Homo sapiens: one gene and its partner. Changing the gene in region 2 together with the main gene of any one other region gives a genetic interaction. Each region holds a gene or a part of one and is shown on either strand. Other genes may lie near its edges.

Region 1 (3,813 bases), about 68 Mb from region 2:
GCCTCTGCCTCCCAAATGGCTGGGATTACAGGCGCCCGCTGCCACATTCAGCTAATTCTTGTATTTTTAGTAGAGACAAGGTTTCACCATGTTGGCCAGGCTGGTCTGGAACTCCTGACCTCAAGTGATCCGCCGCCTCAGCCTCCCAAAGCGCTGGGCTTACACGCATGAGCCACCGCGCCCAGCCACAGTGACTATTGTTTTAAGTCAGTAATATTTAGGGTGGTTGGTTGCACAGCAATGTTGTACAAGGTGGGGTTTCTCAAATTCAGCACTGTTGGCATTGTGGGCTACATAATTCTGTGTTATGGGGGCTGCTTTGTGCACTGTAAGGTGTTTGGTGGCATCTCTGGCCTCACCCATTAACTGACAGTAGGACCCTTCCCCCCAAACTCACACACCACCACCCCCAACTAGCTCTGACAACCGAAAACGTCAAATCACCCACTGGTTGAAAAACACTAATGTAAGAGTATGAAACTGGGACACTAACAGCCAACTGCCTCATCACATGGAAGTCAAGCAAAGTCAGAAACAGGGTGAAGGCAAGGCCAATATATGACTTCATAGGCCCTAGGTACTTTTGCCTTCCTCAGCCCCTTCCTCCATTAAAAACAAAAAAGAATTCAAAAATTATATTTTATGGGGCCAGGCATGGTGGCTCACACCTGTAATCCCAAAGCTTTGGGAGGCTGAGGCAGGAAGACTGCTTCAAGCCTGGAGTTTGAAACCAGCCTGGGTAACATAGTAAGACCCTATCTCTACAGAGAAAAAAGCAAAAATTAGCTGGGCGTGGTAGTGTGAGCCTGTAGTCCCAGCCACTGGGGTGGAAGGATTGCTTGAGCCTAGAAGGTTGAAACTGCAGTGAGCCATGATATACCACTGCAATCCAGCCTGGGTAATAGGGCAAGACTCTGTCTCCAAAAAAAACAAAAATTATATTTTATGACTACATTAGTATAAAGATGAATGTAATCCAGAATCATTATACATTATTATATTCATTTTTCCTATAATTTTAAAACAAATTAAAATTTAATTCAGTTAATTAAAAGTAATTAAATTCATTAAAATTAAATATCACAGATCCTAAGCACCGTGCCTACTCTGCCTAATAGAAAGTCAGCCCTGAGTGAGTATAAGGACAGGGCCACGGGATATTATTGAGGTCTCTGGAACTAGCTATGCCTAAAGCTAAAACTTAACTCATTCCTGGATTTCTCAGTTTCATGAGCCAATAAATTCACTCTTTTATTCACACAGGGTCTCACTCTGTCACCCAGACTGGAGTGCAATGGCACAATCACAGCTCATTGAGCCTCAACCTCCCGGGCTCCAGTGATCCTCCCACCTCAGCCTCCTCAGCAGCTGGGACCACGGGTGCAAGCCACCATACCCAGCTAATTTTTGTATTTTTTGTAGAGATGGGGTTTCACCATGTTGCCCAAGCTGGTCTTGAACTCCTGGGCTCAAGCGATTCACCCACCTCAGCTTCCCAAAGGGCTGAGATTATAGGTATGAGCCATTGCACCTGGCCTAAATTCAGTCTTTGAATTAAGTTTGTCGCTTGCAACCAAGAAGCCCAACTTACCTGGTCTCCCAGCTATAAGAGGTGCAGCCTGAATTTGAACCTGGATCTGTCTTATATAGAACCAGAGTTCTTACCGACTACTATCAACCAGTAACTCATTCTGCCTCAAGCATCTTTCTAGTTTTTCTCTCTCAGGACAGTTTTCAAGAAAAAGTTCCCCAAACTTACACTTCCGGACAAAGTTGCTCACGTGCTTAATCTTCATCAGAGCAGGCTGACTGCATTCTTCAAAGAGAACAAAGAGGGCATCTAATATCCCTTCTCGGGAAAGAGGAGACATCTGCTGTTGAGTCATAAAGGGTGGTTTCCCCTAAAAACAGCAAACAGCAGATGGAGACACTGTCAATAATGAAAAGCTTTGATCAATAACATCCACACAGAGTAAATTACAAGCCACCAACTCAACTAACTGCTCACGACATGCTAACAGCACAATTCTGTGGCTTCATTCTTTAAAGCAACGTCAACTGACAGTCATTATGGTATCACTTCCATGATTCCAAGACTGTGGGTTTCTTTCACCAGCACCTGGGAAGGAAAACTGCACAAGCGTGGCCATTAACAAGAAAAGCTCCCTCACTCCTGAGGGTCTGAGGCTAGTGAGAATATTTCCTCTGGATCCTCTGGCTCTGACATGCTTCCATGTTTCTACAATAGGAAACAATGGGTTTTTCACTTCTTTCATGTGTGCCCAGGGGTTTATTCATATAATTTCAGCTTTTTTAATTCATTTGAACAACCTAGAGTAATAAGAACTGAGTGACCATCGTAAAGCCAAATTTACTCATGATCTGGAGAAATAGTTACAAACTGGCAGACTGTCTCTAGCCCACAGATATGTTTTGTTTGGCCTGTAGTGTTTAAGATAATTTGAATTATCTGCCAATATTTCAAAATCAGGAGATTCCATACAAAAAAATAAAAATGGAGTCTCTGGCTTCTTTTGAAACACTGGCACATCCGGCAACACTGCCTCGCCTTCCTGCCTGATGACGCTGAGCTGGAGCTGAGTAATGCTGCCCCTCCCGGTAGCAGATGTGTTTGGGAGTTCACTGCAGGTCTGACTCCATCTTCCAACTGGCCCACTTGACTCATTTATACTCACTGCCTGGCCCCCAAAGACATGAGTCTGCAACCCTGGTATAGAGCAGTGATTCCCACGTGCCAAGCCATGGATAGTGGTGGTCTCTCTTCAAAGATGGCCTCCAACAGTTCCTCCAATTCTGTAGGCACATGCTACTCCTTACTTTAAGCGCTGGAGTCTATTTCTCCTGCCTTTGAATCTGTGCCATCTCTGAGACTCTCTTCAACCAAAAGAATGTGACACAAGTGACACTGTGCCAGTTCAGGGCAGTGCCTTTAAGAAGCTTGTCAAGCGGCCAGACACGGTGGCTCACATCTGTAATCCCAGCACTTTGGGAGGCCAAGACGGGTGGATCACTTGAGGTCAGGAGTTTGAGACCAGCCTGGCCAACATGGTGAAACCCTGTCTCTACCAAAATACAAAAATTAGCCAGGCGTGGTGGTAGGCACCCGTAATCCCAGCTACCTGGGAGGTTGAGGCATGAGAATTGCCTGCACCCGGGAGATGGAGGTTGCAGTGAGCCGAGATCACACCACCGCACTCCAGCCTAGGCAACACAGTGAGACTCCCTCTCAAAAAAAAAAAAAAAAAAAAAAAAGGCAGCTTAGCAGCTTCCACTTTTGGGAAGCCAGCCACCATGCACAGATGCTTGGGCTAGACCAGGGGTGTGCAATCTGTAGCCCTTGGACCAAATCCAGCCCACGGACTTTTTATAAGTTTTACTGGAACACAGCTACACCCATCATTTACATATTGTCTTTAGCTGCTTTTGTGCTACCATGGCCAAGTTGAGTGGTTGCAACAGAGACTACAGGACCCACAAAGCCTAAAATATTTATTACTTACAAAAAAAGTTACGAGTCAGCCAGGTGCAGTGGCTCACACCTGTAATTCCAACACTTTGGGAGGCCGAGGCAGGCGGATCGCGAGGTCAGAAGTTCGAGACCAGCCTGACCAACGTGGTGAAACCCCATCTCTACTAAAAATGCAAACATTAGCCGGGCGTGGAGGCACGTGCCTGTAATCCCAGCTACTCGGGAGGCTGGGGCAGGAGAATTGCTTGAACCCAGGAGGCGGAGGTTGCAGTGAGCAGAGATCGTGCCACTGCACTCCAGCCTGGGCGACAGGGCGACAGTCT
Region 2 (3,492 bases):
TCTCTCCCGACCCCCTCCTCTTCTCTGCATCTCTCTCTCTGCCTCCTCTCCTCTGCACCTCTCTCCCAACCCCCAGGTCCTCTCAGGCCTAGCTCAGATGATGCGGGAGTGCTGGTACCCAAACCCCTCTGCCCGACTCACCGCGCTGCGGATCAAGAAGACACTACAAAAAATTAGCAACAGTCCAGAGAAGCCTAAAGTGATTCAATAGCCCAGGAGCACCTGATTCCTTTCTGCCTGCAGGGGGCTGGGGGGGTGGGGGGCAGTGGATGGTGCCCTATCTGGGTAGAGGTAGTGTGAGTGTGGTGTGTGCTGGGGATGGGCAGCTGCGCCTGCCTGCTCGGCCCCCAGCCCACCCAGCCAAAAATACAGCTGGGCTGAAACCTGATCCCCTGCTGTCTGGCCTGCTCAAAGCGGCAGGCTCCCTGACGCCTGGCTCTCTCCCCACCCCTATGGCCAGCATGGTGCACCCCCTACCACTCCCGGGACAGGATGCAAAAGAGGCTCCAGAGTCAGAGTGCCAAGCCAGGGAATCCCAGTCCCAGACTCAGAGCCCGGGCCTGCACTTTGCCCCCTGCCCTTGATCAACCCCACTGCCCCACCAGAGCTGCCAGGGTGGCACAGGGCCCTGTCCAGCCCCTGGCACACACTTCCCTGCCAGGCCTCAGCCTCTAGCATAAGCTCCAGAGAGCCAGGGCCCATCAGTTTCTCTCTGTGGATTTGTATCTCAGCTCCATGATGCCTTGGGCTTTCTGTCTCCTCAACAAGAGTGCAGCTTGCTGAATGTCAGCTGCCTGAGAGAGCTGGGGCCTGACTTACTAGGGCATTAAATCCTAAGAGGTCCTACTGAGGTGTGGCAGGATCACAGGCCAGTGGAAAAAGGGCAGGTCAGATGGGCAAGGCCCAGGACTTTCAGATTAACTGAGAGGATATCGAGGCCAAGCATGGCAGGGGGAAGGTCAGTGGGTGTCAAGAGACCCAGGTCTGACCCCGGATGTTTGCTCCATGTGACAAAAGCAGGCCTGTCTCAGGACCTTTTCTTTTCTTTTTTCCTTCTTTTTTTTTTTGACACGGAGTTTCGCTCTTGTTGTCCAGGCTAGAGTGCAATGGCATGATCCCAGCTCACCGCAACGTCTACCTCCCAGGTTCAAATCATTCTCTTGCCTCAGACTCCCGAGTAGCTGGGATTACAGGCACATGCCACCATGCCTGGCTAATTTTGTATATTTAGTAGAAACAGGGTTTCACCATGCTGGCCATGCTGGTCTCGAACTCCTGACCTCAGGTGTTCCACCTACCTCAGCCTCCCAAAGTGCTGGGGTTACAGGTGTGAGCCATCGCGCCTGGCCAGGACCTTTGTTTCTTATCTACATATTGGAAGATTTGGTCCTGATGTCCTTTGAGGCTTCTTTAGCTCTAGTTCTCTGACACTTCAGCCTATATCACAGCTAACTTCTTCAGTCTCATCTATTCCTTATGCTCCAGCCCCTGGCAATTTGCCTCAAGATGGGGGTTTGAAAATAACTTTACCTGACTCAAGGAGTGTCTGGAGCACCTCCTAGTCTAAGTCTGCAAGCTCCAGTTCTTGCCTAAAACCATGCCAGTGGCCACCCTTGGGCTCAGACAGCTCTGGGCCTTTTGACCACAAGCCAGCCCCTCGCCCTCTCTGTGGCATAGTCTTCTCTGCCCCAGGACTGCAGGGCGGCTTCCTCCAAGGCTTCCAAGGCTCAAAAGAAATTTGGCTCCATCCAAGAAGGCTCCAGCTCCCCTACTGGCCCCTGGCTCAGGCCCACACCCCTGGCCAGGCCCAGAGAGTGTGTCTCAGGAGAATTCAATGGCTCTAGAGAGACACACAGAAAGTTTGGCATTTGGAAATTTCAAGGATGTATGTATGCTCACGTATGGAGCAGGTTGTCCTGGTCCCTGGGTGCAGGGAAGTGGGCTGCAGGGAAGTGGATTGGAGGGGAGCTTGAGGAATATAAGGAGCGGGGGTGGAGACTCAGGCTATGGACAAGGACAGCCCCAAGGTTGGGAAGACCTGGCCTTAGTCGTCCTCAGCCTAGGGGCAGGGCAGTGAAGAAAGCTCTCCCCGCTCCTGCTGTAATGACCCAGAGTAGCCTCCCCAGGCCGGCATCTTATGTGTGTCTTCCACCATCCTCATGGTGGCACTTTTCTAGGCCTGTCTCCCAGCATTGTGCAAGGCTCGGAAGAGAACCAGGAAGTGAAACTGGGTGAAAACAGAAAGCTCAATGGATGGGCTAGGTTCCCAGATCATTAGGGCAGAGTTTGCACGTCCTCTGGTCACTGGAATCCACCCAGCCCACGAATCATCTCCCTCTTGAAGGATTTTATTTCTACTGGGTTTTGGAACAAACTCCTGCTGAGACCCCACAGCCAGAAACTGAAAGCAGCAGCTCCCCAAAGCCTGGAAAATCCCTAAGAGAAGGCCTGGGGCAGGAAGTGGAGTGACAGGGGACAGGTAGAGAGAAGGGGGCCCAATGGCCAGGGAGTGAAGGAGGTGGCGTTGCTGAGAGCAGTCTGCACATGCTTCTGTCTGAGTGCAGGAAGGTGTTCCAGGGTCGAAATTACACTTCTCGTACCTGGAGACGCTGTTTGTGGGAGCACTGGGCTCATGCCTGGCACACAATAGGTCTGCAATAAACCATGGTTAAATCCTGAGCTCCGGAGTCTTCCCAGGCCGATGCCTCTGCAGTGGCCCGTCGCAGAGGTCCAGATAAAACCAGAGGGATCCGGGGAGAAGAGGGTCCCAGGATACACGCCCAGCTTTGCCCTTAGACAGGTCACAGTTTCCTCACGCCCCTGCTCAGACCCCCGCGGGGGCCCAAATCTCAGTTCCTACCCCAGATTGGGAGCAGCCTAGTCGCCGCACCTGCCACGTCGCCCTCTGCTGGCCGAGGGCTGCCCAGCGGCCGCCTCCCATCCCCACACAGGGACCGCGGGGCCTTTCCCGGCAGGGTGGGGCAGCCTTCCCCGCACCCGGGGGCCAACGTCTGTGTGCTCACTGACTTGCTGTTCTGCAGGGACTGTCCCCCTAATACCACACCTAGCGAAGAGCGTTCTGCTTCCGAACCGGCAGCTTGGACCCTCCCTCCTCAATTCCTTGTTCTCACTTCCCTTCTCAAATGGGGTCCCCATCTTGCCAGGAGTCAGTCCCCATTCCCAGCATGGGAAGATCCCCTTCCCTGGGGACCTACCTTGTCCTGGGATCAGAAGGCACTTCACACACACATCCCATTCTCACACCCGGAAATTCGGGGCGGGGACATGCTGTGGGGGAGGCAGATACTAAAAGAAGCTGAGAGGGTCCTGGCCCATGGGACTGCCCAGCCTAGAAAATCTGTGCCTTCGTGTTAGACGCCCTCTTAGGGAAACATAGGAAGGGTACACCTTACACCACAGATGACCTTGTGGTCCCTTGCACCCCCAAGGCGGCCTCATGCCTGGAACCTCCTACCCTGGGTTCATGGATCC

The links.
Region 1: changes in ACVRL1 (region 2) and CIT together harm fitness more than expected from each alone (negative genetic interaction), as found in Homo sapiens cells (one large-scale study listed by BioGRID).

The regions. Positions count from the first base shown.
Region 1 is NC_000012.12:119,867,301-119,871,113, forward strand, and holds part of CIT (citron Rho-interacting kinase), read right to left. Parts: intron 1,902-3,813; coding exon 1,760-1,901; intron 1-1,759. UniProt on the Homo sapiens protein: Plays a role in cytokinesis. Required for KIF14 localization to the central spindle and midbody. Putative RHO/RAC effector that binds to the GTP-bound forms of RHO and RAC1. It probably binds p21 with a tighter specificity in vivo.
Region 2 is NC_000012.12:51,920,683-51,924,174, forward strand, and holds the end of ACVRL1 (activin receptor type-1-like isoform 1 precursor), read left to right. Parts: intron 1-76; coding exon 77-211; 3' UTR 212-2,679; downstream 2,680-3,492. UniProt on the Homo sapiens protein: Type I receptor for TGF-beta family ligands BMP9/GDF2 and BMP10 and important regulator of normal blood vessel development. On ligand binding, forms a receptor complex consisting of two type II and two type I transmembrane serine/threonine kinases.